Linked DNA regions of Homo sapiens. The protein of the gene in region 4 interacts with the protein of the main gene of each other region in a biochemical or structural test. Each region holds a gene or a part of one and is shown on either strand. Other genes may lie near its edges. The genes, in order: MAGI2, HTRA1, PALS2, ASNSD1, PARD3, SNTG1 and ARHGAP21.

The links.
Region 1: the proteins of ASNSD1 (region 4) and MAGI2 interact in a test that uses a peptide from one of them, tested with the Homo sapiens proteins (one large-scale study listed by IntAct).
Region 2: the proteins of ASNSD1 (region 4) and HTRA1 interact in a test that uses a peptide from one of them, tested with the Homo sapiens proteins (one large-scale study listed by IntAct).
Region 3: the proteins of ASNSD1 (region 4) and PALS2 interact in a test that uses a peptide from one of them, tested with the Homo sapiens proteins (one large-scale study listed by IntAct).
Region 5: the proteins of ASNSD1 (region 4) and PARD3 interact in a test that uses a peptide from one of them, tested with the Homo sapiens proteins (one large-scale study listed by IntAct).
Region 6: the proteins of ASNSD1 (region 4) and SNTG1 interact in a test that uses a peptide from one of them, tested with the Homo sapiens proteins (one large-scale study listed by IntAct).
Region 7: the proteins of ASNSD1 (region 4) and ARHGAP21 interact in a test that uses a peptide from one of them, tested with the Homo sapiens proteins (one large-scale study listed by IntAct).

Annotation. Positions count from the first base shown.
Region 1 is NC_000007.14:78,120,232-78,124,782, forward strand, and holds part of MAGI2 (membrane-associated guanylate kinase, WW and PDZ domain-containing protein 2), read right to left. Parts: intron 1-4,551. UniProt on the Homo sapiens protein: Seems to act as a scaffold molecule at synaptic junctions by assembling neurotransmitter receptors and cell adhesion proteins. Plays a role in nerve growth factor (NGF)-induced recruitment of RAPGEF2 to late endosomes and neurite outgrowth.
Region 2 is NC_000010.11:122,489,053-122,493,603, reverse strand, and holds part of HTRA1 (serine protease HTRA1 precursor), read right to left. Parts: intron 4,183-4,551; coding exon 3,978-4,182; intron 1-3,977. UniProt on the Homo sapiens protein: Serine protease with a variety of targets, including extracellular matrix proteins such as fibronectin. HTRA1-generated fibronectin fragments further induce synovial cells to up-regulate MMP1 and MMP3 production.
Region 3 is NC_000007.14:24,649,952-24,654,502, forward strand, and holds part of PALS2 (protein PALS2), read left to right. Parts: intron 1-533; coding exon 534-761; intron 762-4,551.
Region 4 is NC_000002.12:189,664,150-189,668,636, forward strand, and holds part of ASNSD1 (asparagine synthetase domain-containing protein 1), read left to right. Parts: intron 1-1,226; coding exon of another isoform or gene 1,227-1,302; intron 1,303-1,891; coding exon of another isoform or gene 1,892-1,962; 5' UTR 1,963-1,983; coding exon 1,984-3,447; intron 3,448-3,614; coding exon 3,615-3,796; intron 3,797-4,487. Other genes in the region: ASDURF protein, read left to right, coding at 1,227-1,302, 1,892-1,962.
Region 5 is NC_000010.11:34,377,559-34,382,109, forward strand, and holds part of PARD3 (partitioning defective 3 homolog), read right to left. Parts: intron 549-4,551; coding exon 409-548; intron 1-408. UniProt on the Homo sapiens protein: Adapter protein involved in asymmetrical cell division and cell polarization processes. Seems to play a central role in the formation of epithelial tight junctions. Targets the phosphatase PTEN to cell junctions.
Region 6 is NC_000008.11:50,655,959-50,660,509, reverse strand, and holds part of SNTG1 (gamma-1-syntrophin), read right to left. Parts: intron 3,602-4,551; coding exon 3,485-3,601; intron 1,919-3,484; coding exon 1,847-1,918; intron 1-1,846. UniProt on the Homo sapiens protein: Adapter protein that binds to and probably organizes the subcellular localization of a variety of proteins. May link various receptors to the actin cytoskeleton and the dystrophin glycoprotein complex.
Region 7 is NC_000010.11:24,713,152-24,717,702, reverse strand, and holds part of ARHGAP21 (rho GTPase-activating protein 21), read left to right. Parts: intron 1-4,551. UniProt on the Homo sapiens protein: Functions as a GTPase-activating protein (GAP) for RHOA and CDC42. Downstream partner of ARF1 which may control Golgi apparatus structure and function. Also required for CTNNA1 recruitment to adherens junctions.

The DNA.
Region 1 (4,551 bases), on a different chromosome or scaffold from region 4:
CTCTACTAAAAATACAAAAAAATTAGCCGGGCGTGGTGGCAGGTGCCTGTAGTCCCAGCTACTCAGGAGGCTGAGGCAGGAAAATGGTGTGAACCCAGGAGGCGGAGCTTGCAGTGAGCCGAGATTGTGCCACTGCACTCCAGCCCAGGCGACAGAGCAAGGCCCTGTCTCAAAACAAAAACAAAAACACTTGACAAGAAAATTCTAAAATTATATGGAAGGGCAAAAGCCCAAGAACATCCCAACACCACTGAAGAATTAAGATGTGTGTCTGGGGGAGAGAAAGTTTCCCCATACAAAACTCAACACTCATTAAAAGGTAGCTAAGTATGGCATTGATGCAGGGATAGACAAATAGACTAGTAGAACAGTATAAAGAATCCATATACAGACCACTGCATTTATAGAAATTTAATTTATTATAGAGCTGTCATTGCAGATTGGTGGGGGGTGGGACAAAGAAATACTCATTAAATAATGATGCTGTGGACCGGGCGCGGTGGCTCACGCCTGGAATCCCAGCACTTTGGGAGGCCGAGGCGGGCGGATCACGAGGTCAGGAGATCGAGACCATCCCGGCTAAAACGGTGAAACCCCGTCTCTACTAAAAATACAAAAAATTAGCCGGGCGTAGTGGCGGGCGCCTGTAGTCCCAGCTACTTGGGAGGCTGAGGCAGGAGAATGGCGTGAACCCGGGAGGCGGAGCTTGCAGTGAGCCGAGATCCCGCCACTGCACTCCAGCCTGGGCGACAGAGCGAGACTCCGTCTCAAAAAAAAAAAAAAAAAAAAATAATGATGCTGTGACATGTGGTTATCCATATGGAAAAATTGAGATTGAGGTTCTACCTTATATCATACAGAGAAATCAACTGTAGGTGATTAAATACTTAGATATAAAAAGTAAAACTATACAACTTTTAGAAGAAGATATAAGAGAAGACGTTTAAGACCATGTCTTGGAGAATGATTTCTCAAACAAGACACAGAAAGCAGAAACTATAAAAAAAAAAAAAAGGGTTAAGCCAATTACGCTAAAATTAAGACTTTCTCATTATCAAAGAGCATCATAAAGAAAGTGAAACTGCAAGCCATAAGCTGGCATAAGATATCTGTATCACATTAATTGATGAAAAAGATCACCAATAATATATAAGCATTTCTATAATCAACATGAAGAAATATTCAACAGAAAATGAGGAAAGACATGTACAGGCATTTTTTAGTTAAGAGAGAACATGAACGTCTAATAAATATAAGAAAAAATGATGAATATGAATTTGTAATCAAGAAATGCAAATCCAAATCTAAAATATATAATTTTCTACCTACCAGAATGAGAGTTTAAAAGTCTGACGTACAAATCTTGTGAGTGTGTGTAGTAAGAAAAACTTTTTTACATATGCTAATACAAGTATAACTTTGTAAAACCACCTTGGACAATACTTTTGTGTTACTTAGGTAAGTTAAATTTGTGCCCTCCAAGGCATCTAGTCTAGTCTAGAGAAAGTCTTGCATAGGTACAGCAGGAAAGATGTACAAAGATTGTATGAGTTACAACAAACTTGGAAACAACCAAAGTGTAAATTGACAGGGAAAATCTCAAATGTCCATAAAATGGAAAAATAGATAATTATTATAGGTTGTAGCATATTCACATAATGAAATAACTTATAGCAGTGAAAAATAAATGGACTATAGCTTCATGCACCAACCTTGGATGAATCTCATGAACATAACATATAGAAAGCAAACCACAGAGAAGAACATGTACAGTATGGTTCAGTTACATAAAGTTCACAAAGTGCACCAAGCTAAAGGTTATAGTTGAGAGATACACACATCTGTGGTAACAACAGAAGAAATGTCAAGTGCTTTATTTAGGAAGGTGGTTCCCTCTGAGGGCTGGAGAGTAGGAGGAGAATGAAATCATGGGAGCTTGGTAATGTTCTGTTTTTTAAGTGGGGCTATGGGTTCATGGGTCCTTGAATCATGGTTAGTATTTACACTTATTACATATGTTAGAAATATTCTTGTAAATCGTTTTATGTTTAATAAAAACAATATATAAACCAAGATGCTTTTGTATTGACTAGTTATATCTGGTCTATAGAAGGAAAGGTGACAAATTTAGAAGAAGCTAATTTCAGGGAATGTTGCTTTTCCTTTAAAAAAAAGATGGGCAAATGATATTTTTTTGTGCATTGATTGGTTGAACAAAATGTTTTAGTCATTCCAAAGCCCATTGCAGGCAGACTTTTGCATCATGTGAGTTTCAGAAAGTAGGTAAACCATCTTATAAATAAGCTTATGTGATGCTAAATAGGCATACACAAATGGTACCCAGCTGCAAGTGATGAAGTTATGAAATAATGTTCTTTTTCATCATAAAAATACATTTTATGGAAATGCGAACTATATTACACTTTTATGGAAACAGGAAAATATTTTACCATTTTAAGAGCAAACGATCTCCTTTCAGATTTCTCTTTTAACTTGACTCTCAGATTTTTATTTAAGCACTTAGAATTTCTATTCTTTCCCTCCAAATGTCTCCTGATTTCTTACATTCCCTGTTTTACTGAGCTTTGCCAATATTATTTTTTATGTTCATTATTTTTTGCCTGTGTTTTCTATTTAGTTTTGGCTTTTAATTAGGTTATATTCCTAGGAGCTTTGTATCAGAGATTTTATTCACTAGCTATGAAAATTTCATCCCTCCCAATTTTATTAGGCCATTTTACAAACGTAAGTCTTCTTTTTATAAACAGCTCCAGTAATATTTTCTAATAATTTATTATCCTTTTCCTTAAAATCTGAATGTCCATTGTGTTTCTCTTATGACACCAGCCTTCTTGACTGACTGAAGAAAAGCAAGCAGACGTGACAATGATATATCTCTTTTTATTATTCCCCTTATTTTCTGCATTCACAGATTGTGTTTTGTTTTATCTATTCAACTTTTAATACATCAGTATTAACTGATGTTGAAAAACCATCTAGTATAATAATTAAAGTCAAAACTTGCTACTCTCCACTGGTTTTTTGATAAAGTGAATATAGTAGCTCCCTCTCATACCTCTTGCATATATTCCAACATCTCCAGCGGATGCCTGAAATCACAGGCAGAACTAACCCTATATACACTGTTTTCCCTATATATATCTATGATAAAGTTTAATTTACAAATTAGACACAGCAAGGGATCAAAAACAATAAAAAAAGAACAATTATAACAAAATGCCAGCATCACTACTCTTGCACTTTGGGGCCATTACTAAGTAAAACAACGGTTACTTGAACACGGGCAGTGCGATACCATGATAGTCAATCTGATAATCGAGAGGGCTGCTGAGTAACCAGTGGGCAGGTAGCATCTACAGTGTGGATAAAGGGCTGTTTCACCTTCTGGGAAGGACAAAATTTCAGCACGATACTCACAACGCTGCACAATTTAAAATTTATAATTGTTTATTTCTGAAAAATTTTATGTAATATTTTTGGATTGCAGTTGACACAGGTATCTATAATAAAACCTCGGAAGGTAAAACCTCAGAGTTTCACCTGAAGAGCTTCCTAAAACATAGCCTGGTGACCCCACTCCTAGAGTTTCTGATTCAGCAGTTTTGGGTGGGGCTAGAGAATCTACATTTCTACCAAGTTTCCAGGTGATGCTGATGCCAGGAACCGTGCTGAGAACCATTGCTCTGGCTTAAATTCTGTAAGAAAGAGGAATCTTTTCCTGCAAGGGTATTTCTCTATTTAGGCTTCTTTGCCTTGGGAGTACTGTGTATATCCAGCAGCGAGTCATTTAGATCCCTTGTGAAAATACATGGCCACTGTTTGTAACCGACAGAGACCAGCCCTGTAGTCCACCGTGGGTCTCTATCTCTCACAGGGCTCTGGCCATTTTGCACATGGTCTTCCTACTGTGTTTCACCTGCACTGGAAAGATTAATTTTGTTTTACTTAACTGCTTGTGAGCTGGCCTTATAGCAGGTTAAGAAAGTGTCCTTCTGGCTTATAGGGAAGCTGTAGAGCCAGGAAACCATGTGGAGGCCCATCTTCAAATCAGGGCTAGACGGGGTAAGAGGAGGCTGGTGCTAGATCACGGGGAGGGCTGCCAGTCTCTGGTGTCAGCCCTGCCTGGGTTTAAATTCCAACTTGGATGCTTCCCAGCTGTCAAAGGATTGTGGTAGTGGGGAGAAACAAAGACATGATGTGCATGCCTTCTGCTTTTGGACTGTGGATAATCCTCTGACTTGGAAATGCGTATCATAGAAATGCAGACTTGGTGGTAGAAATAACAGATTCAGCCATCAGGGAAAATTGGTTGGTGAGGCTCTGCACAAGAACCTGAGGTTCCGGAACCCCAAAGCCACAGCTTTTCTTTATTAACTTAAAGAGGCAGGAGGGAGGGCAAGAATAAATTCTAGATTTTATTCATACACCGACACACACACACACACAAACACACAGAGAGAGTAAAGAGACTAATATTTTATATTGTTAACAAGCTTTGTTTTATACCCTTAAATGAAGAATCAGTTACCC
Region 2 (4,551 bases), on a different chromosome or scaffold from region 4:
CTCTGCCTTGTACTCCAGCCTGAAGAAACCAAACTGCTCTCTTTTTACTTTTCTCTCTCCCTGTCCCCACCCCTGCCCCAAACTGCTCAGGAAAAAAAAACCCCGCAGGGACAAAATGCCACCATTGGATGAAAGCTTGACATATGCTGCGCACAGCCAGTGGCTCATGTTAAACGCATTTGGAAAGAGTTTGTAACTGAAGCTGAACTAGTCTGCCCTCAAAGCTGCTTTCTATTAACATGTTTACACGCACACTGTCCCGACTTTCTGCAGCTGGGATTCCCTCCCCAGGCAGGCTGGCCCCAGTCGTGGGTCCCAAGGAGAGGGGAATTTCAGATTTGGGCAGAAGCACAGAAAGGGATGCCTGGCCGGGGCTGCAGGTGGACACCTTCTCACCTCCTGCTTGGAGGGAGACAGCAGGGCAGGCAAGAGGGGGCTGGTCCGTGATTGTCTCCCAAAAGCTCTTCCGGGTCCCAAGACTCAGCAGGCAAAGTGAGCGCACATGTGTCTGCTCAGCAGTGAGAAGCAGAAAAGGAGTCATTTGGTCACAAGCCCAGAAACATCTCTGGCAACTTCAAGCCACTGGAGATGTGAGGGGAGCTCCAAGAATGGGAGGAAAAGCAGATATTAAACTGGACTCACAAAGTGCAAGAACTCAGGCAGTGCTGGGGGCTCAACAGCAGGGGCTACAGCAGCTTCACCATGTTAGTCTCTGTGGGTGGCATCCAGCTTCACTTTGCGATTCCAAGGGGAGCCTCTGCTTGCCCTAACTGGGTCCTGTGTCCACTCCTTGGCCACAGAGGGTAGGACACCATGACTGATGGTCCCACCTACGCTGTCCGATGATGGACATGTGAAATGCCGGCTGTTGCTGCCAGAAAAGGGGGTAGGTGAGTGGCAAGTGGACAATGACCACAGATGTCCGTGGCAATTCTTATTTCACTGAAAGTCTCAAGAATATCACGTTTACAGCCACGCGCAATGGCTCACACCTGTAATCCCAGCACTTTGGGAGGCTGAGGCAGGTGGATCACCTGAGGTCAGGAGTTTGAGACCAGCCTGGCCAACATGGCAAAACCCGGTCTCTACTAAAAATACAAAAAGTAGCCAGGCATGGTGGTGCACGCCTGTAGTCCCAGCCACTCAGGAGGCTGAGGCAGGAGAATCACTTGAGTCCTGGAGGTGGAGGTTGCAGTGAGCGGAGATGGCGCCACTGCACTCCAGCCTGGGCAACAGTAAAACTCTGTCTCAAAACATAAAAATAAAATGAAATAAACATGTTTATGAAGGACAACGGGGGCCCCTCCAAGTGAAATCAGGATGCCAGGGGAGGAGCTGGGCCCAGATGATAAGCCACCGAGTTAGTCACTGGGCCCACGGACGCGGCAGGCAGTCTCACCAGCTTCACTGGGTTACTCTTAAATGGCTTTGCAGGAGGCTGGGCCACAGTCTCATATGACAAGGAGCCGTGTAGGTGATTTTCATTCCTCAAGCACAGTTTCTGCTGGTTCTGTTCTGCCTTCTCGGTTTTCCTGATCTCTTTCATCCTCTTTGTTATCCCTAAGATGACACAAAGCAAGGCCAGCCAGAGCTTCCCCCGAAATAACCCATCATCAAAACAAGGGAACAAAAGAGAAAAAGCTGGAAGAGATGCTGTTACTCTCCCTACTTTCAACTACTATCAGCAAAAAAAAGCAGTTTAGTCAGTGGAAACCAGTCTTTTGTGTGGGTGTCTGCAATTTAATATCCTTTCATTTCCAATTCCATTTTGAAAAGCCACATCAGTTCAATTTTAAATTTCAAGCACCCTTTCTTGGGGGGCTTGAAACACATGTCAAACAGCATGCTGCTGGCTGAAGAGCTAAACTCCCAAGACAGCAGGAGTCAGGTCAGACACACTCTGCAAAGCTCGTCTATTGAGATCGTTCACGTCTTGCCAGGACATGCCAGGGATGGCACGAGGAGACAGTCTCCACCTTGGCTCAAAATTGGAAAAGAATATCCCCCGGCCAGAAGCAGCCGCACGGTATGTGCCCACGCATTCCAAACACGAAGTTACGCAGTGGGGGCGGCGTCCAGGCCAGCGCCTCGCCTGCACACAGCCCATGCCCTGCTGCTGGCTGCCTCCCAAAGCTCCATGAGGCTGAACAGGTCCCACGCGTGGCCACAGGCTGTGCTATTCTGACTGGCTCCTTCCGGTGAGACTACCACATCCTGGATACCTTTCTAGCAGCCTGTTCCTAAACCAGATGCACCCGCCTTCCCATGGGCTGTTTAAGGTCAAGCTGTCCCATCAAACCACGGGGCCGGCCTCTATCCCTCCAGCAGTAGCCATGGGCTGCCTTAGGAGGGCAGGGTCATGAGGTGTTTGCTGTGTGGCCTCACACAGGTTACTAGACTTCTCTGAGCCCCTGTTTCTTCTTCTCTAAAATGGGGATAACACAGCTATTATGCAGATTAGGTGAAAAAGAATGAAGGCAGAGGCTGGCCCAATAATCCTGTGACCAATAAACACACTTTGAAAGATTAGTTGTCGCTAGAAATTCCACAGTGACCTAATAGAAATAACACACAACTGCAGCCTCACTCAAGGCCAGTTACACACACCGGGCACAGAGCCTATATCTACCCAGAGCCTCTTCGGCCATGCCTGGCCACCCAGCCATAGAGAAGCTACAGGAACATCGGGGAAGGAGGGTAGTAAATGTGTTAGCTGGTGGTTTTCTGAAGACTGGCCGTAAAGGAGCCTGAGCTGGGCAGCAACTTGATGTTATAAAAAGACGGAGAAGGAGACCCGGAATCCTACCACCCAAACAGCACACGCAGAGTTGTTTCCAGAAGGAGGTGTAACCAGCGTGCCACTGAACAGCACAAACAGCCAGATTAATTCCACGCTTGTCTGGAATTACTCAGCCCACACCCAGGTAAAGCGAGGCAAGCAGAGGGCTGGACAAGAGACCCCACCTGGCTCAGCCTCTGGTCTTTTCCTTGGTCAGAGGCAGGATTCCAGCCTCCTCTGATTGTTCCCTCCATCTGAAGTCTAGAAAATTATAAGGATGTGAAGAAACTGGAAACCACGCTTTCACTGAACATGCCACACAGCAAACAAAACCTCTCTCATCGACGTGTCGAGTGGGGGTTTTTGATGAGTCAGTAAGAAATGGATATTGTCCCAGACATGAAGACTTTGCTAAGCAAATCAACAGAGCAAAAATGATTGCAAAGAGAATATTTAAATAGAAAGCATTTTCAAATACAGCATTTCCCAAACTGATTTTGGTATGTCTCAGTTCTGCCTGCCCCCACAAAAAGCTGTATACTCAAATGATTATAATTTGGGCAAATAGTTCAGTCAACACCCTTTTGTAGGCAAGCCACGTGCACACTAGCATACTAAAAGCTCTGAGAAGGTCTGGAAAGAAGAAATCCATTAGCTCTGTTTTAATTCAAGTTTTCCAAGATGTTTAAAGTACGAAACATTCTTTTGAAACACATCTCATAACCCCGCAAAACCCCAATTTGGGAGAGCTGGTTTGTTTTCAAAGTAACTGTTGACAAGTTAAGGATGGCTCAGTCTAAAACCCAGTAAATTCTATGTTCATTGTGAACGCATGATGTATCTGTGGAGGATAAATAAAATCTGTAACAAGAGTTGCCACAGGATTGGGAATGGGAAGGAGAATCAATTTTCACTACTTACCTACTAATTTCTTTACAAATCTATTGCTTTCTTTGACAAACATTTAAAACATTATTTTAAAAACTTTTATCTGGCTCCTTACAGAAGTTTTCCTGAGCCCCTTCCTCTCCCACACCCCCAGGCCATACTCAGCATCTCCTCAAGGCCCTCCTGTGACTGGCTCAGACTGGCTTCAGTGCCCCCCGAGAATCAGCTGCAATCAGAGAGCTCTGGTGCCTTTGCCAAGGGTGTTCCGGGGCATCTGAGAACTCACCTCTGCAGGCGAGAACACCCTTACCTGGTGGTCAATTTTGATGAGTGCGATGTCTGCTTTCTCATCCACATCCTTGATTTTGGCTTCGTAAGTGGCACCGTTCTTCAGCTCAACTTTGACCCGGTGCTTGTTGGTCACCACGTGGGCATTTGTCACGATCAGTCCATCTTCCGACACAATAAACCCAGACCCACTAGCCACCGGCACCTCTCGTTTAGAAAACGGAAGCCTAAAATCCAAAGGAGTACACACTTAAGCCTGTAGCACCTTAAAATGAACGCTTCAACGCATTGATTAATGGGTTGTGCAACAGCCACACACACCTAGCCATCGCTCCTTTATATATCGGGCTTAGCATTTAAACACTAAACATCCTGCCAATTTTTTGCATGCATCAAAAACTTCCACTTACAAAATATTCTTAGAGAATCTCTTCAGAGCCCGAGGTTCTTTAAACATTCAGAAGGGTCAAGAATGTAGATTTATATAGTCGAATAGGGAAAATGTTCTAAGGGAGACACACTTATCTTAAGTAGGAAGATATTCAGTGACACTTTGACACTTTAATGTATCTCAAAAATAGCTCTCATGTTTTGCT
Region 3 (4,551 bases), on a different chromosome or scaffold from region 4:
GAAAAGTTAAACTGAGCTAGAAGTAGAAATATGGCAAGGGGTAGCAAAAAATTTCAGAAGATGACTATTATGTTTCTTCCTACCCTTTGAAGACATGAACTACCCTTTGAAGAAATACTGACAGTATCAAAATATAAAAAGAAGTTGTTATTAAAAATTGAAGCCATACTAGGACTCTCTAAGTAGTGAAGTTTACTATTCCTTGGTAAAATTATTACTTCTGGATCCTGACTATAAGAACAGTGAGTGCAAAAAAGGAAAAGCCAGGAATAAGTCCATCAGAATGCACAAATACCTTTTCCTGCTCTCTCGAGTTTCCATTTAGCCTGTAAGATACATCCTATCCACTAGTGTAATAAACTATACTAGTACACAGTTTAATGGGAGTGAAATATTGAGACAGGAGAGAACATGGGAAAAGTAAGAATGATTCATTTTACCTAGTTTTAGAATTATTTTCTTACATATGCTCATGAATATTTAAGCATTTCTCCCTAATAATTAATGAGAAATCTGTTTCTTATTTTTCATAGGGTGTGACATTTAGGGTTGAAAATAATGATCTGGTAATTGCCCGAATCCTCCATGGGGGAATGATAGATCGACAAGGTCTACTTCATGTGGGAGATATAATTAAAGAAGTCAATGGCCATGAGGTTGGAAATAATCCAAAGGAATTACAAGAATTACTGAAAAATATTAGTGGAAGTGTCACCCTAAAAATCTTACCAAGTTATAGAGATACCATTACTCCTCAACAGGTTAGTAATAAAATTTTTGGTAGTATTAAAAATACTTTCATGTTTTTAATCACAGTGTTGGAAATAACTATCAGTTGCTACTATTTTGCTAAAGAAAAGAGAAAAAATTGATTTGAGTGTTCTGAAATGGCTTATTTTGTCATGGGTGAATTTTTGAATTTTTAAACAATGCTATTTTACTATTGTAAAGGAAATAGTAGATTTCTTCATTAACACCAGGAACCCTGGCATAATAGTAACCTACAGCTAGGTATCAGAAGAACCATAAAGTCTTTGAATTACTAATCTAGTAAACATTTCTGACAGCTGTTATGTTCAGGCATTGTATTAGGCCCTGGGAGAGGATAAAAATGCAGTCCAGATCACCTCCAGCTTAGTGTTTGTGTCATGGGTGAAATGACTGATGAGGCCAGAAAAGAGGATGGGTATAAAGAAAATCTTGGACCCCTGGTTTGCACACATTTGATCTGTATTTTAAAACTAATTTTAGGTAAACTAGGTAATTGAACGGGAAAATGTTTTAGTTATAGAGATTGTCTAGACTCGGTATGTTAAGTGAATTCAAAAAGAAGAGAGATGAGATTATGTAACCAGGTGGCAGATTTTTGAAGGTGTGAGGTGATTTGTGAACAACAGCTCTAATGAATGGTTAAGATGACCACTTAGGTTCAAATACCAGTGCTGCCAGTTATCAGCTTACCTTCTCTGTGCTTCATTTTTCTCATCTATATAGTTAGGGATAAAATTTGTTTTCTCAAAAGATTGTTATGAGGATTAAACGAGTTAATTCATGTAATGCTCTCACAGCAACACCTGGCACATAATGAGTGCTCAAGAAGTGGCTGCACTTGCTGTGGTGATGACGCAGTAGTGGTGAAATGGAACCGTAAAGAAAGAAAAAGAAATTGCGGAGGAAGAATTGAAAATTATGATAGGAGTGTTGGAACCAAAGAGAGGGTTTTCAAGCCTAAGTAATGTAGAAGTAGATGCCTCTAATGCTTAGGTTTATTCCAGAAATTTATTGTTTGATGTATGAATGAAATTATAAGTTTTCTTACATAAGATACTGCCAGTGTATCTTATTTCATATTGTTAAAATGAGAGTTTAAAAGTCTAGTTCTTACATTTCCATACAGTTATTTGAAATAACATTTCATTGAATGTCTATTTTAAACTGTTCTTTCAAAGGTAAGGATAGATTATTTAGTCATTAATATTAGCATGTAAATTGAACTTATGAAAATAGATAGGCTTGTAATTAACTTTGGTTGAAATGAAGGTAGTTTTGTGGTCCTCAAGGAAAAGAATTGTGAAAAATAAATGATATTAGTACTTAGACATTTCATATCACTAGTACCTCTCAGGCTACCTTTATTCCTCAGTTGGCAACTTTCAATTTGTGACAGCCTGAGGCCTTATCTTGGACCTGCGTACGCTGGAAGAGTAAAATCTAGGATTTACGTATTTTATTTATTATTATGTGTTAGTTGTAGTAGGAAGATCTTATTTTCCTTCTGTGGTCTAAACTCCAGAATTCTTCTAGCTCACCATGGCTATAAGAGACTTTTACAGGCAAAATAAAATTTTATAATATTAATAACTAGGGCTTTGGCCCAAATTCCTACATAGATTTTGCATCTGGTGAACTAACTGAATACCATGAAATGCAAGGACATTTAGCCTTGTTTAAACATAAGTTTTCCACATTCCATACCCTCTCAAACTCTGCTTTTCACTTAGCATTTAGAGCTGGGGAAATGAATTCAAGTAGGAGAGGAGGAGTCTTATAAGTCCGAGGTAGCCTGAGGCGTGTCCTCCCATAAAGAAGTAAAGAAACTATAACATGAAGGCTTCCAAAAGAACATCCAAATTGAGACTTTTTTTTTTTTAAATGAAAAGGGGAACATTACTCATATGCTGGAATAATAGGCATAAACCAGGGCATCTGCAAACCATGGGCATCCTACTGAGATGCTATAGGGAAGCAAGGGCATTTTGCGTCTTCAACTCTTTCACTAAAATCTCCACCATGTAGTGCTGTGGAGCTAGTCTCAGCTCTGGATTGCTGCAAGAGCAAATGAAAGCCAAGAACTCTTCCCTACCACGGTAATGTTTTTCAAAAGCATAGTCAGTAGATGATCTTTATCAGAATCGTTTCAGGTGCTTGGTAAAAGTCCAGAATCTGCTATGGGACATAAGTATCTATGTTTTAAATTTTGAGGGCCAGAGTGAGTTAGAAGTAGCCAATTCTGAAGTTCTTCAACTTTCTTATAGCTTAGATTTCCGGGGGCTATTCGTAATTCCATTTGTTTATTAAGGCCAACTGATAGGAATTCTCTCTTATTCTTTGGAACCAACATGACCTGGACAACTAGAAACAATATAAGAAAATATATTACAGGACTGTTTCATTCAAGGATATACATTAAAAATTCTCAACAAAATATTAGCAAATCAGATTTGATTGTGTATATAACAAAGATGATACAACATATCCAAGTTAGATTTATTATCCCAGGTATGCTAGGAGAGTTTCATATTAGAAAATCCATATGTATGTAACTAAGCACATTACCAGATGAAAAGAGAATAACCTCAATGGAGAATTTGATAAAATTCAATGATTTTTAAAAAATGATTAGTAAATTAGGAACAGAAGGGAAAAGCCTTAATTTTATTACAAAAAAAAAAAATAGAACAAACATTATTCTGAATTAACTAATGTTAGAAGCTTTCCCTTTAAAGTCAGAAACTGGCCTTGCAGCTGGTCTGCCTGAGACCTCTAGTGCCAACCCCAATACCCCACGAAGTTTAATTTCCACTCACGAAATTCCACTTTCGTTTTCATTATAAAATGAAAAAGCCCTCACAAACCATGAAAAACTTGCCAGATTTCAAGCACAATTGTGCACTGGTAAAAAGGAACTGCCCTCAGATGATACAGCAAACATTATCTGTTAAAACAGATGATAAAAAAAATCTTCAGTTTTCCTGAAAGAAAGTAGAAATAGGCAATATCTCTGATACTAAAGAGGTATGTCTGCAAACCAAGGAATGGTGATCTTCATTAACAATCCCAGTGTTCAGACATCTCTAGCAGCGAACACTTTGACCATTACCAGACATGCTGAGACAAAGCAGCTAACAGAAATGCCACCCAGTGTCTTAAACCAGCTTGGTGTCAACAAGCTTAAGGAAACTGGCAGAAGCTGGATGGAAAAGTACCACTTACTATTGGGGAAGTGGTGATCTTGTTCAGAATTTTGATGAAGCTTCCAACAGTGAGGCAAACTGAATTGATTCAGCTTCTAAAAAATAATACAATTTCAAGAATTTTAACTGCTTTTAAAATTTTTGTTTTATATATGATAAAATGTAAGTCTATAAATTCCAAGACCCTTGGACACTGCTTTTTAATTATTGATTATATACAGTTATTTATTGGCAATTAATTAGCCAGAAAATAGTTTAAAACAAAGATAAAGCCTTTGCCTAGTTAAAAAAAAAAAAAGAAACTAGAGAAGGATGCTCACTAGCACCACTTATATTTAATATTTTCTTGAAGGATCCATAAGTACAGTATGACAAAAATAAATTATACAAGCAAAATGTTTGGAAAGGAGGCAATAAAACTTATTTACAAATATGATCATGTTTTTGCATAGAAACCCCTCAAAACTACAACTTATTAGAAATAATAGAGTTTACCAAGGTACCTGAAAATAAGATGAAGACACAAAACTCAATTGCATTTCTGTATGTCATCAGCAAACGTCTAGAAATGTAACTA
Region 4 (4,487 bases):
CTATCATATGCCATTCACATTGCCTTTGCAACAAATGATACTAGTTGTATTTTGGTATCTTGGAGCTATAATCACTAATGATGTTTTATACCTGAATTTGATGTTTTCTTTTGATATAAACGAACTTTATATTGAGATGAGAAGAAACTTTTCTTTTAAATGAATGTGGATAATTATTGAACAAAAAAGGATACATTGCTTCCCCTCCCTCCAAAAAATTTTTACATAGATTTTCCTAAATGTGTAACATGGTTATTTAATGCCATTTCCATTAATATGTTACAAACAAGTAAGCTACTGCTTTGTGTATGGTTATAGTGTCAAATTGCATTTTAACATTCAGGAAGAAATGAGTTTGAGCTCTTAAAAGCTTTGTAAAGATTATGTAATAACTGGCTGGTTAGATATTTCTGATATTGTCACTTATGGAATATTAGAAGTTGAGGCACATACAAAAATTAGCCAGGCGTGTGCCTGTAATCCCAGCTACTCAGGAGGCCGAGGCACAAGAATCGCTTGAACCTGGGAGGCAGAGGTTGCAGTGAGCTGAGCACACCACTGCACTCCAGCCTAGGCTACAGAGCAGGACTCCTTCTCAAAAAAAAAAAAAAGAAGTTGAGGCAGAATTAATACAGACTTTCTCTAGAGGGCAAATTGGCAAAAAGTCTCAACAATTCAAAACTATAACACTTTGACCCAGCAGTTCCATTTATAGTAGTTGATACTTAGGAGAGAATCATGGTAGTGCACAAAGATTTAGTTACAAAGATAATCATCACAACCTTGATTTACAATAGCAAAGAGATGGTAACACCTTAAATGTCTAGTATTTGAAGCTGAGCAAATAAACTGTAATATATTATATCTATATAGCAGTAGGTATAATTTGGTCACCATAGCTTGCTTTGGCATTTTGGTGTTCTTGTAAAAGAACACTTACTGATAAGAAAAAGTATTCTCAATATATTGCTCATTGATAAAAGCATAAATCTGCAGGTACAGTAAGAACCTTTTTTGTTAAAATGGAGAGAAAATAGTTTCATTTCAGTAGTAGCAATTTCTGGTAGTTGGGCAGTGGGTGACTTTTATTTGTCTTTTTGCTTGTCTGTATTTGCTAAAGTATTGTACTGAATAGATTTTCAAGAATTAGTGATAATAGGGTTTAAGGATTTTAATATCTACTTTTTAGATCAAAATTTGATATTAGCCTAAATTATGTTTTCCAGAAAGTATATAGGCAACAACAGAACAGCAATATATTCTTTCTTGCAGACCGAACAGAAATGCTGTCTGAGAGCAAGAGTAAGTTTTTTCTTTTTTGGGGTTTTTGGGGGGTGCCTAAATTATACTCATCTGAGTGTTAAAATATATATCTAAAGATTAATGCAGCAGTTTGATTTTCTTCAAATTAGGCTTCCGAAGATGAGTCAACAGTTATATATATATGTGTATATATATATATATATATATATATATATATATATATATATATATATATTATAAATGTTTTAGAAAGCAATAGTTATTAACATGTGCTTTAGAATTTTAAACAGGTCTAAGTATGACAAACCATTACCACTTTCTACCTTTGTGACTTTGGGTGAAATACTTTAAGCCTCCAAGGTATTGTGGGATCTAAATAAGATGCTATGTTAAAAGTGCTTAGCCAAGTGCTTGGGCCAAAATCAGCACTCGGCAAAACAGAAGCTATTTTTCTAAAAGATAAACATTCTTTATTAGTAGCCTGTTGTTAATTATCATTGGTACTGGCACAGTGTGTGTGTTTATATGGTTTGATTTTGGTAAACAGCTTGTGTTGCCCTCTGAATTGCTAGGTAAAAGTCCAAGAATTTTTATGTTATTTAATATTTATTCTCCTTCCCTGCAACAGATATATTGGATGAACTGAAAAAAGAATACCAAGAAATAGAAAACTTAGACAAGACCAAAATCAAGAAATAGTCAACCTGATTTCACATAACAATGTGTGGCATTTGTTGTTCTGTAAACTTTTCTGCTGAGCATTTCAGTCAAGATTTAAAAGAGGACTTACTATATAATCTTAAACAGCGGGGACCCAATAGTAGTAAACAATTGTTAAAGTCTGATGTTAACTACCAGTGTTTATTTTCTGCTCACGTCCTACACTTGAGGGGTGTTTTGACTACCCAGCCTGTGGAAGATGAAAGAGGCAATGTGTTTCTATGGAATGGAGAAATTTTTAGTGGAATAAAGGTTGAAGCTGAAGAGAATGACACTCAAATTTTGTTTAATTATCTTTCCTCCTGTAAGAATGAATCTGAGATTTTGTCACTCTTCTCAGAAGTACAAGGTCCCTGGTCATTTATATATTATCAAGCATCTAGTCATTATTTATGGTTTGGTAGGGATTTTTTTGGTCGCCGTAGCTTGCTTTGGCATTTTAGTAATTTGGGCAAGAGTTTCTGCCTCTCTTCAGTTGGCACCCAAACATCTGGATTGGCAAATCAGTGGCAAGAAGTTCCAGCATCTGGACTTTTCAGAATTGATCTTAAGTCTACTGTCATTTCCGGATGCATTATTTTACAACTGTATCCTTGGAAATATATTTCTAGGGAGAATATTATTGAAGAAAATGTTAATAGCCTGAGTCAAATTTCAGCAGACTTACCAGCATTTGTATCAGTGGTAGCAAATGAAGCCAAACTGTATCTTGAAAAACCTGTTGTTCCTTTAAATATGATGTTGCCACAAGCTGCATTGGAGACTCATTGCAGTAATATTTCCAATGTGCCACCTACAAGAGAGATACTTCAAGTCTTTCTTACTGATGTACACATGAAGGAAGTAATTCAGCAGTTCATTGATGTCCTGAGTGTAGCAGTCAAGAAACGTGTCTTGTGTTTACCTAGGGATGAAAACCTGACAGCAAATGAAGTTTTGAAAACGTGTGATAGGAAAGCAAATGTTGCAATCCTGTTTTCTGGGGGCATTGATTCCATGGTTATTGCAACCCTTGCTGACCGTCATATTCCTTTAGATGAACCAATTGATCTTCTTAATGTAGCTTTCATAGCTGAAGAAAAGACCATGCCAACTACCTTTAACAGAGAAGGGAATAAACAGAAAAATAAATGTGAAATACCTTCAGAAGAATTCTCTAAAGATGTTGCTGCTGCTGCTGCTGACAGTCCTAATAAACATGTCAGTGTACCAGATCGAATCACAGGAAGGGCGGGACTAAAGGAACTACAAGCTGTTAGCCCTTCCCGAATTTGGAATTTTGTTGAAATTAATGTTTCTATGGAAGAACTGCAGAAATTAAGAAGAACTCGAATATGTCACTTAATTCGGCCATTGGATACAGTTTTGGATGATAGCATTGGCTGTGCAGTCTGGTTTGCTTCTAGAGGAATTGGTTGGTTAGTGGCCCAGGAAGGAGTGAAATCCTATCAGAGCAATGCAAAGGTATGACACAGTGTTTCTTCTCCTGAGAATTCCTGAGACCTATTTTTGACCCTTAAAGCTTTTAGCATTTTGATTGTAAGAATATAGCATATTTTAGGTGCATTTATCTTATTTTCTTTACTGTGTAGTTGATAACATTTTTATACGGATTTCTTTAAACCTCATAGGTAGTTCTCACTGGAATTGGTGCAGATGAGCAACTTGCAGGTTATTCTCGTCATCGTGTCCGCTTTCAGTCGCATGGGCTGGAAGGATTGAATAAGGAAATAATGATGGAACTGGGTCGAATTTCTTCTAGAAATCTTGGTCGTGATGACAGAGTTATTGGTGATCATGGAAAAGAAGCAAGGTAATTCTAATCATTTGAGTGTTCTTACGGTATTTTTATAAAAACAGCAGAGTGTAAATGGAGACTTTAAAGTTTGTTTTCTCTTTGGAGACTGTTCACATGAATAAGAGCAGCAATAATAGCTTGGCTTTGTATTATAAACAAAGTCAGAAACAGAGCTGGGAAGAGCCAGGAGAGCATTTATTTTCTAGAACTCATTCTCTAAGAAATGTCTTTTCAGTAATTTTCAAAGGTAACATAATGACAGGATTGTTTTTAAGACTATAGTGAAAAATACTGTCAAAGTAGGCCAGGCATGGTGGCTCACACCTGTCTTCCTAGCACTTTGGGAGGCCAAGGCGGGTGGATCACCTGAGGACAGGAGTTCAAGACCAGCCTGGTAAACATGATGAAACCCCACTTCTACTAAAAATACAAAAAAATTAGCTGATCATGGTGCTGCATGCCTGTAGTTCCAGCTACTCGGGAGGCTGAGAATGGCTGAACCCAGGAGGTGGAGGTTGCAGTGAGCCCAGATCGCGCCACCGCACTCCAGCCTGGGAGACAGTGCGAGACTCTGTTTCCACAAAAAAACAGAGTAAAACTGAGATAGTGAAATACTAAGAGAAGGTATTTAGAGGGTTTTGTTCAGCTTTTAATGTTTGCTTTCCTCCCAGTAAGGGCATAAGCCCCACCTGCAAGCCTTCTCCAG
Region 5 (4,551 bases), on a different chromosome or scaffold from region 4:
CAGCCTGGGCGACAGAGCGAGACTCCATCTCATAAAAAAAAATAAATAAATAAATGGAAAGATAATTTCTCATCAGATAACATGGAAAAAAGAGCTGGGCACGATGGCTCACACCTGTAATCCCAGCACACTGGGAGGCAAGAGGATCGCCTGAGGCCAGCAATTCAAGACCAGCTGGGGCAACATAGCAAGACTCTGCCTCTACAAAAATTTTAACAATTAAAAAAATATATATAAAAAATAACATGGAAAATCTAAACATAAAACAGAAACACATTTTGTGACGCATACTTCCGCTAAAATGTATATAACTGAATTTCATATTTTATGAAAATGTTTTTAAAAGTTGGCTCCTGGAAATGGAACATTTCAAGAATCAGGGAACATCCTGCTGGGGAAGTCACTTACCTCTATAAGTCTGTCTCCTGCCTTAAGTCGGCCATCCTGAATGGCCGCCCCCCGGGGGAGAATGTTTTTCACATAGATTGGAGCTGAGCCACCTATTGTTACATCTCTGGAAGTGATGCTGAATCCCAAACCTTCTGTACCTAGGTATGTGAAGGAGAAGAAAAGTAAATAAAATGAGATATCTTGAATTTTACAGGTGTATTGCACCAGTATACTCAACCTCAACTTGACATTTTGTAACTTTCACAATGGTCCACATTTCTTCTACTACTTTAAAAGTTGTAATAAATTTTTCAAAATAGACTAAATTGTGGAAGGTTTAAATGGTTTACATATCAACAGTTATTAATCTAAGAAGAAACAGCAATCTTCTCAAAGACAGATGAAAGTTAATATGTAAATATGACTGCTAAAAGTTTTTAAATCAATGTAAATCTTTGAATAGGAAATTCACTACATGAAGAAAGAAAAAAACTTCTGTTAAGACCCACAGTACCTCAAAACTCAAGTATTATTGTGCAATAATGACATCCAAATTTTAAGGGTAGGAGGTATGAGCAAGGGAAACAAAAATGTCCAGGGAGATGGAAAAGAACAGTGAAATGAGAGGTATCTCTAGATAGAGGTAATGGAACCTCCCAAAATCATAATTATTCAAAGCAGTTTACTAAGAGGATAAACCATAAACCAAATTATCTTTGCCTAGTTCACTTCTAATTCACCTAAATCTTACCATGTATATTTCCTTCACCACCCCCCACTCCCAAACAAGGCAAATTACTCAGTGAAGACTCCATCTCAGATCATGGCTACCAAATCTGGGGATCATATTATGCTTAAAGGTACTAAATTAATGATGCATTTATAAATTACTCTGATGATTCACAGAATTTAAATTCTCATTTCTTTGGCAGCTTTCTTGACAGACAGTCTTACATGCTCAATACAAAGCAGAAAAGTGTTTATATGTCACTAGAATCAAGACGCAAGAAGCCAACACGTGCCCAGGAAAAACTGGGGAGATAATGATACATTTGTAATGAATCACAACATTTTTACAATAATGATTTCTACCTAAGCTTTTTTAAAAAGTTACTTCTTAAGATATTAGTTTCCATTTCAGTTAAAATATTGTTAAGGCAAATGCTTGCTCATTATGGGAAGAATAAAGAGATCTGTAAAGGTGAAAAATCTAGAAAAGAGCACATTAATCTGATACATCACTCAGTATAAAACTGTAATGAAAAGTATAAAATATAAGTGAACAAAAAAGGGTGAATAAAAATGTAGATTAAAGAAACATTAAAGGAGAAATAAAGAAAACACTCCATAGTTATTCCTGTAGCAAAACCTACCATAGTTATTCTCAACATCAAACAAAGCATTCATTTACTTTAGTCTGAAGTCACTTTAGGGTGCTTGGACTATTAATATTTCTGATGTCTTCCATGCTGAACACCTGAATGGCATACTGTCTATATGAAATGTTTGTTATTGCTCTGGGGAGATTTTTCCATATGTCTCTGCTTTCATGAAACTCTAATGACTTGCAATAACATTTATTAAGAAAGAATTCTTAATTACTCTCCTTTTGCAATACTAACTTTTTTGAACTATGAATGCTGACTGTTGTAGGAACCTCAATACTATTAAAATATCAGCAACAACCCCTAAATCTGTAAGCTAAAAGTTCAGGCAATGACCTTTCAAGGAAAGATAAGTAGATATCAATTTTCATTTAACAAAGCCAACAAAACATTCTGCACTGACTGAAACAGATTACTGACCTTCTCCTCTGACTTTATTAAAAAGCTAATTTCTACAAAAGAGCTGGGTATTTGAGAATACCAAAATGGCAATAAATATTAAGAAATCATAATTATGGAAGCAAGTACACTGAGGCTATTCTGTTGTCATGTTATATAACATAGCTCCAAAATTAGGCCAAAGAATAATTATACTGACATCTTTTTTTGTACTAAGAGTTGATTCCAGTTTTTGAAGAACTGCTGCCACTCAAAGCACATTAGCTCACTTTGAACTGAATCTGAAGTTTAACACTGACACACCCTATGTTTTTAATGTACTTCACTAATAAATGTAATAACTTGTAAGAAAAAAATCTGCTAGCTACAAGGAAAGCCTGTTCAATTCTCCTACATTCATTATTATTAAAATATATGCATTTAGTCCTAATCAAAGATAATCAGCATTCTTCCCCACATTTATAGTAAACATAATTTTTATATAAAATATTTGTAAGTATTGGCAGCATGCACAAGCAGCATGTGCTTTTTGTCATACATTCTCACAGTTGGTAAATTAAAATCAAGATAGATCTATGGGACTCTATATCATTAAGATTACTCAAGGTCTGAAAAACACTTAAAACCATTGTTTCTCCTTTCAGTGATTAAGCATAGTCTTTCTAAATTAGCTTGTGTAAATGCAATCATATTTTTCATTAAATGCTATTAAAATAATATCTGTATTCAAAACAATGGTACCAGTTTTGTAAGTAAAATGTATCAATTTGATTTATTTATCACTTCAGACTTACTATAACATAAAAATTAGATATACTCATTATTTTCCTTTTTTTGGAGAATCTGTATTCTGTTTAATACTTTACCTTTATCTTCTCACTTCAGATTTCCTTTGTATTTCTCATTCTTTCATTAGCAAAACAATGGTACTTTTAATGGCAAATCACCTCATTTAAAAAGTTCATGTTATATCATGATTTGTCAAATATCCTAATTTTTGAAAAACCATAATTAACTAAATGAATATTGCTGTATCAGTGTAAAAAGGAAAAGATATTTATGAACCAGTATCTTTATGACAATGGTGAAGCAAAATACTGTACCTTTGTTTAGAGATATCAAGCAGAATTTTATTTTTTATACGATTCTATTTGTAGTTCTTGATATGTTTTTGGTTAAAAACAAGGGCCTGTCATTTAAGTAGAGCAAAAGGAGGAAAGAGGATGTGATATTTCTCTCATTTAGGAATTGACAGAGCTAAAGGGGTTTCTGTTGATATGACTCTGTGTTTGCAACGAGGCAAGCTGTCAACTCCTGATCATGTCAACCAAGTATTTAGAGCTTAAAAACCAGTAACCAGAAATAAGAAACTTGAGGTTCACATAAAGTTCACTGAAAGAATATGAGTTAGAAAGGAAACAGCAGTCTCAGAGTTTACAACCTTGTAAATGCTACCCCAAATGTAAAGAAGAATGGTCTGAATATCCGGATATGGAAAACATACTAGTAAGAATCTGTGGCCAACAGCCACATGACCTGAGGAAATAATGAACCTCTCTTGGAATCATTTCCATCCAACTATAAGAGTTGATGGTTGAGCCTATAAAAAAAAATATTCTTTATAATAATACCATTTTGAAAGACATGATTTAAAAATATATCAAAATGCTCAGCTAAAATGGATCAGGAACAGTAAAAGTGTATCTTGGTGCCTGGACGAAACATTGGGTGAAAATCATAAAGTCAAGTCCAATAGTTTGCACTCAACTTTGAAGGAGGCAAACTGCAAGAACATGCTCTCTATACAGAGATCCACTGTATACAGGAAGGGTACTAAAATACATAATGGATGGAAGATGTATGAAGAATCGGCAATCGACATCATGACTTCCACATCACCATAAGAAAGAGAAGCAGGCCTGGACATGGTGGCTCACTTCCATAATCCCAGCACTTTGGGAAGCCGAGGTAGAAGGACTACTTGAGGCCAGGAGTTCCAGATCAACCTGGGCAACATGGCAAGACTCCAACACAACAAAAAATTTGTAAATGAGATGGGCATGGCGGCATGTGCCTCTAGTCACAGCACTTGGAAGGCTGACATGGGGTGTTGCGGGCTACGGTGAGCTATGACTGCACCACTGCACTGTAGCCTGGGCAACAAAGAAAGGCCCTGTCTCAAAAAAAAAAAAAAAAAAAAAAAAAAAAAGAAAGAAAAAGAAAAGAGAGGAAAAGAAAAGAAAAAAAAGAAAGGGAAGTAATGCAATAATACAAGAAAACAAAAGACAAGAGTCAATGGCCTGGCTTCTCAGCAACCTACTATAAACTCCTGGCAGCCTCAAACAAATTGGTCCCTCCCCACATCAAATACTGAGAT
Region 6 (4,551 bases), on a different chromosome or scaffold from region 4:
TCCTTCTCCTTCCTTCTTTCCTTTCTCCCCTCTGTGCACTCCCTGCCCTTCCTCCCTTTCTTTTTTCTCTTTCTTTCTTTCTTCTTTCTTTCTTTCTTTTCTTTCTTTCTCTTTTTCTTCCTTCCTTCCTTCCTTCTTTCTCTCTCTCTCTTTCTTTCTTTCTTTCTCTTTCTTTCTTTCTTCTTTCCTTCTTACTGTCTCTCTTTCTTTCTCTTTCTTTCTTCTTTCCTTCTTTCTCTCTCTCTCTCCTTCCCTCCTTCTTTCCTTCCTTCTTTCCTTTTCTTTTCTTCTTTTCTTTTCCTTCTTTTCTTTTCTTTCTTTCTTTTCTTCCCCTAATTACATGAGTAGCTTTCCTAAAAATACACAGTTCGCCCTGGCGCGGTGGCTCATGCCTGTAATCCTAACACTTTGGGAGGCGGAGGTAGGCAGATTGCCTGAGCTCAGGAGTTCAAGACCAGCTTGGGCAACATGGGGAAACCCTGTCTCTACTAAAATGCAAAAAGTTAGCTGGGCATGGTGGCATGTGCCTGTAGTCCCAGCTACTCAGGAGGCTGAGGCAGGAGAGTTGCTTGAACCTGGGAGGTGGAGGTTGCAGTGAGCCGAGATCACACCACTGCACTCCAGCCTAAGCAACAGAGCAAGACTCCATCTCCAAAAAAAAGAAAGCTATCTCATTAGCCATTTTGGCAATTATTTCAGAAAACTGGAGTCGTGTATGATCTCCTTTTCCTCAGATACTAGCCTCTGTTTAAGAAATTGTCAGACCCTTCTTTACTAACAATACACTCAAGTATTTCAGGTTGTCCTTCCACCATTACGCCTACAGAAGAACTCAAAGCATGCACAGTGATGAGCAATCAATGAACTATACTTTTGGCTGGATTTTGCACTTCAGAGAACTTCAGCTTTAATCCAAAGTTCTCTATAAGGAACAGAAACTATAAACAATTTTGAGGTAATTATAATTTTTGTCTCTCTGCCTTCAGACACTTTTGATGCATTTTATTATATTTTAAATGTTTCAGCATTTTTCTACTCTGCTAAGTCTTTAACGGGAAGAGAAATAGCTAACATAAAGCAAAGGGAAATTAGCTCCCCTTGGATACAGAAACAAGGTCAACCTTATGCAGGAATTTAATTATCAATCTGTGGTGAGTCCAAGCCTACAAACCCTAAAGTAGAAAGTGAATATATATTAGTCTTCATGTTTTATAGGTTATTCCAATTTTAATTCTTTAAAAAACGCTATAGAAACCATGTGACATTTTATAGAATTTGTGATGGCTTGATATTGTAATAATCCTGCATATGGCATGAAATTCAACTGATATATGACAATCGAATGTTCTTTTACATATGCAAAAAGATGGTCAAGCCATGAGATTAAGAACAAAACAGCAAAACTTTTCTTTGCATTTTTCCTGATATTTTCTATATTTTCTAATTCCAGGTCTCACCCAAATCTTTCTCTTTTGCATTTTATTCAGAAAAAAAGAATTAAAAAAAAAAACATGGTAACAACCAACGTTTAAATTCAGACTACTTTCAACTGAATTTTCTTCTTCCCCAGTGAACTCCTGAGGAGCTTCTCCCTGTTCCCTCACCCACGGTGGGACTGCAGAGTCTGCTTGCAAGTTATTTAAGCAGATAGCTGAGTGCCAGTGCACTTCTGTGCATTCTATATTTTCTCTTTTTTGTCCAGTTTATTTTCTTTCTCTTTCATTTGTCTTTATCGTGTCTCTTCTTTCATTCCATGAATGATTTGTTTTCATGAGCTGCTTATGAGCCCAGAGGCACTATTTGCTGAGGAAAAGCCATTCAAATACTGACTACATATTGATCATACCTTGAGGATCTTGCACATAATCTCATAAACTGAGAATGTTTTCTCTGCTCTCGTCCAGTCCCAGGTGGTCACCTTTAAAAGATAAGAAAATAATGTTTAATTTGTTTTAGAAAGTTATTTACCACTGTATTTGATTTGCATAATATAGTGAAAAATAAGAAAAAACTTTCACAGATGTATCTAGTCTCTCATCTGTGAAGCCATGCTCATAAAGGACCCTACATAATGCTTTTGTTTCCTCTTTTCCAAGCTTTGTTACCATTTGTCTTATGCTTTCAGCAAATGATTTATATTATGTGCAACAGTTCTCATTTGCCCAGTGTCCTTATATATCTTAAATAATATACGCATTCTCTACCTATAAATACTAAGTATTTACATTCCACACTCATATTTTTTTTTTAATTTACCACTAGTTAAATACAGAGAATACCAGACCTCAACACAGCTATATTTTTTAAATATACATCATTTATATTAAGAAATTCCAAGATGACTGTGACATTGCAAACATACCCAAAGCATAATGCAGTTATTTCACTTACTTAGGTTGGAAACTATATTTAACTGTCTTGTCAAATAAATTATTCAGAGTAGGAATAGAGTAAAATATATAAATATCAATTTTTCCTCTGTCTTCCTAGTGCTTTAAACTTTGTGTAGAGACAGACATTTAAAACAGCAGCAAGTTAGACCTGATGATTTCTAAATCTTATGTATTATTAGACCTGCAAGTGACTGGTCTGGCATTTGGTATTTATATTCAATAAATATTTATTAAGTGTCTTCTGAGCTGCAAGGTACATGTTTCCAAAAGCAAGACTTGAGGTGCAATAGGTATCTATACATATCTAGTACAAATCTCAATAACTAGGATATAGAATATAATAGAAGATGAAAATGTTATTGATTTTATATAGAGAGACCTGTACAACATAAATAAGCAAGTTCGACTTGTCATAAATGATAGCTTACCAGAATGTATTTGTGTTGTTTGCCAAGGATAGAATCCTCTAATTTAAATGTTGAACACCATGAGAGTTAACATCATCCTATGGGATTACCATAGGGTGAGATAGACTTAATAGTAGCTAGATAAGATGCTATCATTTTGAAATTTCCTTATTATTCTTTGCTAATAATAAATTACTAGTAATTAAAAGTGCTGAATAAATTTAAAAGAACTTTCAAAAGATCCTTGGAAAATAAGAGTTTAGTAAACATGTTCATTCATGTATAGCCCTAAAACAGTTTATTCTTTTTTATTTCACTTTTGATATATTCATTTCTTTAATTTTTATTCCATAAACAAAATACACTGACATATGCTTGAAAATGTTTCTTAAAATCTCCTTTCCCATGTCGTCATGAGATTTGTAATGGCATTATAATTTGATCCATTATTTTATAGGTTCACTATTTATAAAGAAGTAAGTTCCAGACTTTTCAAGGGTGTTAAAGCAAATGTTTAATGTCAGAATATATATTTTAGTAAGTTAAATCAGATAAACTGATTTCTACTTTTTCTCTATATTATTTTTTAAAAATATTGATGGTATACTATTTGGTGCTGTTAAGTTGGTGTCAATCTCTTGTGATAATATGGAAACGACCAATACATTTCAATAAAACACGTACTGGAGGTGCCAGAAACTTGTAGAGACATGAGCCCCTCAGGGCCAGGAAGGTCGGGGAGTACACTCTGTCCTGGAGGGGGTCTTGCTCCCGGGCTTCACACCAGCCCATGTAGACAATCTGCAAGAAAATGGAATACAATCAACTGTCAAAACTTCTTATTTTAGATATCTTATATCTAAAAATATTTAGATGCAAATATTAAAAATATTTTAGGTATTTTTCATGTAGTATTAAAAACTCACATAAAATTATCAAATTGATTGATGCAAAAAAGTACATTAAACCAGATTTGGCTTCAGTAAATGAATGTAAACCTCTCATAAGAATTTCTTATACGTTTCTACCAGCATTTATCAAGTGTTTATGCCATCCAACCTGCCATGGATTATATTTCCCACTCTATCAATTCTTACAGAAAAAAATACTTATTTATAATAGAATTCATTGATGCATCGCACTTGTTTACCAATTACTGACATTTTATTAATTGGGAATGTGCTTTAATACAGAATGTTGAAGTGAGTAAAGAAAGCAAATCAGATAGACATCTTATGGCAATACCACTAGGGCGGCACACCACTTCTCCTCTGTGCCTGATAGGGGAGAATGATAAATGCCCTCCTTTTAATCATTGATCTTAGATGAATACAATTTATGCTAGTGTATTCATATATCAAATGGCATTGAAATCAACTCTTTAGCCTCTAGTGCTTAATAAAGGCAGATCGATTTCCAAACAAAGATTTTGTGAGATGAGCCACTCCTCTTTTTATGATCTGATTTTCTTGAGAGTCAAACATATACACAAACACTTAACAAATAAGTATGACATTTCTAACAACATATTCATGTGGCATTCAATTTCTTTCTCATCACAACTCTGTGCGGGAGGATATACCTCCCACTTCATATAATTTACGTTGGCTTTATGGTTGGCAGAGTTAAGTCCTCCTCCTAGATATTTTTTTCTTTTTTTGGCTCATGAGACCTTCTATCATCAATAGGATATTAATGAATGTGTCGCAAGTAGAGTTAGCTTAGTATCTTGTGCTTTTGCCATTATCATG
Region 7 (4,551 bases), on a different chromosome or scaffold from region 4:
GTGAAGTCTGAAAGGACTTTGGTAATTTGGTCCGCGCTTCTGTCTCACTTGTTACTTCTTTTTGTTCTTCCTAGATTGAACTCCTGTCAGGTCCTTTCTTCTACCCTTCCCTCTACTGTCCCCTGTTCCTCCTCCCTCTGCTCCATGGCTGATTTTTACTCATCATACTGGTCTTTTCTTCAATACTGCTTCCTCAGGAAAGCCTTCCCTGACCCGCAAGACTCTTTCAGTTGCCCCTAGTGTATTCTCTCAAAACACCCTGCACTTTCAGGAATACCAGTTACAAGTTTATCTATATCCCCCTTGGATTGCAGTCCCTATAAGAGCAGGGACCATGTTTGTTTCCACAGGGACTGACACATAGTAAGTGTCAGGTGATATTTTTTGAATGAATAAATGAATATGCAGGAAAGGCTTTACATTTTATTCAGTGTTCATTTAGATTCCCGGACATTATACTCTCTTGATTATCTTCCTTCCTCGTTGTCACCTCCTTCTGTCTCTTTGAGGTTTCCTCGACATCCTGATTTGCTAAACCTTTCTACACCTCAAAGCTCAGTTAATCCTCATTTCTTCTCCCAATACTGTTTCATGGTTTTAAATATCAAGTATATGCAGATAATTGACACACACACACTCACTTATATTTCTTTATGTGTACATGTGTATATCTCTATTGCTGACCTGCTCCTCTGTCTCGCAGAATCAGATTCCTATATCCAACTGACCTGACTGCCTAGAATCTCCATTTGAATAGTAAATAGGCATATCTAAAACCACAATCCTGACTCTACCTCCATTCCCCTGGCCCACCTTCCCAAGTATGCTCCTTCCAGTCTTCCTCATCTCAAGCAATAGCAATCCCATCCTTCCAGGCCAGGCATCTTGGAGTGATCTTTGATGTCTCTCTTTTTTCTCATATATGACATGTGGATCTGGTTGACTGATTTCTCCACTTCAGTCCTTGCCAGCCTAAAGCCTGTTCTCCACACAGCAATCAGGACAGACAATTTATAAATCAAGTTGTGTCATTCCTTTGCTCAAATTCCTCAAATGGCTTCTCATTTCTCTGAAGATTGAAGGCCAAAGTTCTTGCAGTGACCTGCAAAGCCCTGTATAATTGGTCCTTCCCCCTCCCTGAGCGCACCTCCTGTGCCTCTTCCCGCCTCACTCTGTGCTAGCCATTCTGGTCTCTTGCTTTTCTGCATGTACACAAACGTGGGAGTCCCCAGAGCCTTCCCACTCACTGAACCCTCCCCTTAGAACACTTCCCCCAGTCTCTGCACAGCTTGCTTCCTTGGCTCCTTCGGGCTTTTGCTTAGAGGTCACCTTCCGAGTGAAGCTTTGCCAACCACTCCCTTTGTTGAATGCCCCTCCCCTGCTCCCTGTGCCATGCTCTGCCTTCCTTCCTTGCTTTATCTCCCTATCACTTAGTCTCCACCCGGCATGCTTATGCATTTGATTTTGTTTGTTTATTTGAGACAGGTAATATATCTAGAACGCAGGTGTTGAGAGTGCAGTTTGTCTGTTTTGTTCACATTGTGTTTCTTGTGCCTAGAAGAGTGCCTAGCACATAATAGGTTGTCAATAAATATGTTTTTGGAATGAATAAAGACTTAGCAAAACTCCAAAATGTTACTGAGTTTGCATTTGGACATGTAGTATGTGAATTCTTATTTATTTTATTTCTTTTTGAGACAGAGCCTTGCATTGTCACGCAGGCTTGAGTGCAGTGGTGCAATCTGCGCTCACAGCAACCTCCGCCTCCCAGGCTCAAGTGATTCTCCTGCCTCAGCCTCCTGAGTAGCTGGGATTACAGGCGTGTGCCAGCATGCCTGGTTAATTTTTGTATGTTTAGTAGAGATGGGGTTTTGCCATGTTGCCCAGGCTGGTCTCGAACTCCTGATCTCAAAGTGATCCACCCACCTCATCCTCCCAAAGTGCTGGAATTACAGGTGTGAGCCACTGCGCCCAGCTGAATACTTATTTTAGTTTATATAAAATATGTACAGTATGAAATATGTTCTTCCTTAGACCTCCTGCCCACCTTAAATTCTATTTCATTTCCGTTAGAACTGCTGTTAAAATTTTTGGTGCCTTTTTTCTTTGCACCTTTTTTACCTTTGGGAAGCTGGTAACCAAGTAACAGTAACCAAGACAATGTGTAGTACAAATGTATGAAACAATTTCCACTAAGAGATGAGATCATGATAATTAACAGACAAGTGAAAGGGCAATCAGACTGGTCGATAAGAGAAGCTATAAAAAGATAATCTGTATGGATGATGTTTTATTTCTTAAAACGAATGGCTAGTATATGGATGTTCCTTATTATGTATTTTTATTTTTTCATGTCATAAATATTTCATAACCAGTTAAAAAAAGATCACAAACATTGACCGTGATGAAATGTTAACAGTTGTTTATTCTGAATGATGAGAATATCAGGATTATATTATTTTTACATTTTCTCTTTTTTATTACCAAAATGACAATAAAAGAACACTATGTATAGACTTTAAAAATAGGTAATATGTATTCAGTCTTGTGAAAATTTGGTTTGTGGCAAACCTACACTGCTTAAAACAATACTAAAAAGCATACACACTGCTCAAAGCAACACTTAAAAAACAATTTTTTCTTTTTCTTTTCTTTTCTTTTCTTTTTTTTTTTGAGATGGACTCTCACTCTGTCGCCCAGGCTGGAGTGCAGTGGCGTGATCTTGGCTCACTGAAAGCTCTGCCTCGCGGGCTCATGCCTTTCTCCTGCCTCAGCCTCCCGAGTAGCTGGGACTACAGGCGCCCGCCACCATGCCTGGCTAATTTTTTGTATTTTTAGTAGAGACGGGGTTTCACCGTGTTAGGATGGTCTCGATCTCCTGACCTTGTGATCTGCCTACTGTGGCCTCCCAAAGTGCTAGGATTACAGGCGTGAACCACCGTGCCCGGCCAAAAAACAATTTTTAAAAAGCAAGTTTCTTCATTGGAGGCATAGGATTCATTCTAGACTAGTTACAGTATGGTATAACTCTATTATTTAATTTTAATTTTGTGTTTCTTCATACACCTGAATTTAAGTGTCAGAATACTGTTCCATGCCAAAAGTTTTATGCTGCAAGTTAGGGTTAAAGCTAAAACCTGTTAGAATTGAGAATGATGGCAGTAGCAGCAGCAGGGATCATTAAGTGGCATTTCGGCAGAAGCCTGGATTTTAATGTATTGAGTGGGGCCTATCACTAGATAAGAGCCATCAGCAAAGTGAGTACCCAGATCTAAAGAATTTCTCCGTAAATTGTTAGTGTTCCTTCCCATTCATTTCTTCCAGGTTAAGCGTTTTATGAAGTTCATTGTGCCTTGATGTTCTTCATTTCTTTAGTTACTACCAGGTCAAGTAATCTAGCACAAAGGTAATATTCAGTTTCTTTTGTTCTTTGCTTTGTGAAGGGTCCTGTCTTCTTATTATAGTTAACAATATGCTGATTTAAGTATGGGCAATGCTAGCGTTGATAAGATGCACAGATGCTGTTATTCAATGCAGCTATTTTCTGTTACAGAAAGACCATATGGTAGGCACTTGTTTTTCTGTCTAGTTGATGTGATTAGATTACTAAAACGAAAGGTTATTGGACTTAAAGATTGTCCTACTATTTTATCTAATTTTAATTGACTGTAAGTAATTAAATGTGTTAAAATATTGTAAGCCTTCCATATCTTCCCTGGTTTGAAGTAGAAAGATATCTAAATGCAAAAAACTCAATTTTGGATTGCTTTCACTAAAATAGTTTTATGGTTTAAGTTGCCATGTTCTTATAAAATTGGGTATTGTGCAAATTATTTCACAATCTAATCTGGATGATGGCATTTTGTGCTTCTCAAATAATCCAAAAGACAAATGGATATATTGTACTATAGGTTTGAGAAACTTGATGTGGGCTGGACGTGGTGGCTAATGCCTGTCATCCCAGTACTTTGGGAGGTAGAGTCGGGAGGATTGCTTGAGCCCAGGAGTTTGAGACCAGCCTGGACCAAATAGGGAGACCCCCATCACTTAAAAAAAAAAAAAAAGAAAAAAAGAAACTTGATGTGATGGAAATGTTTTATAAGTCCTCTTCTAGTTATCTATTTAATGTGCAAGAATTTCCACTATGTAGATTTGTGAATAAAAGAATAGATTGAGAACCCAAATTTGATATTTCTGACTATTCATCTGTTTCGGGGTAAGTAGACAGATCAGAAGAAACTGTTTATTATTGTAAAAAATAAAAATAAAAAAACAGGGAAGTTAAAGACTTTATTTACTTTTCCCTGGTGACTAGCTGCTGAGTTTTCTATTTGATATTGGGTGTGTTTTTGATTCAGAATTGGTTACTTACTATGTTTTCCCCTGTTGCTTATCTCTGTTCTGAAGAGGGCTCTGGCATAGTCAGGAGTAGTGCTATGTATGCAGCACTGTTTATAATCCCACAACTTCTTTGCCCTTCGTACAACCTAAGGAAGACACTCTCTTGAGTTCTATTTTTTTGTTCATTGCACTACTCATTAATATATTGAG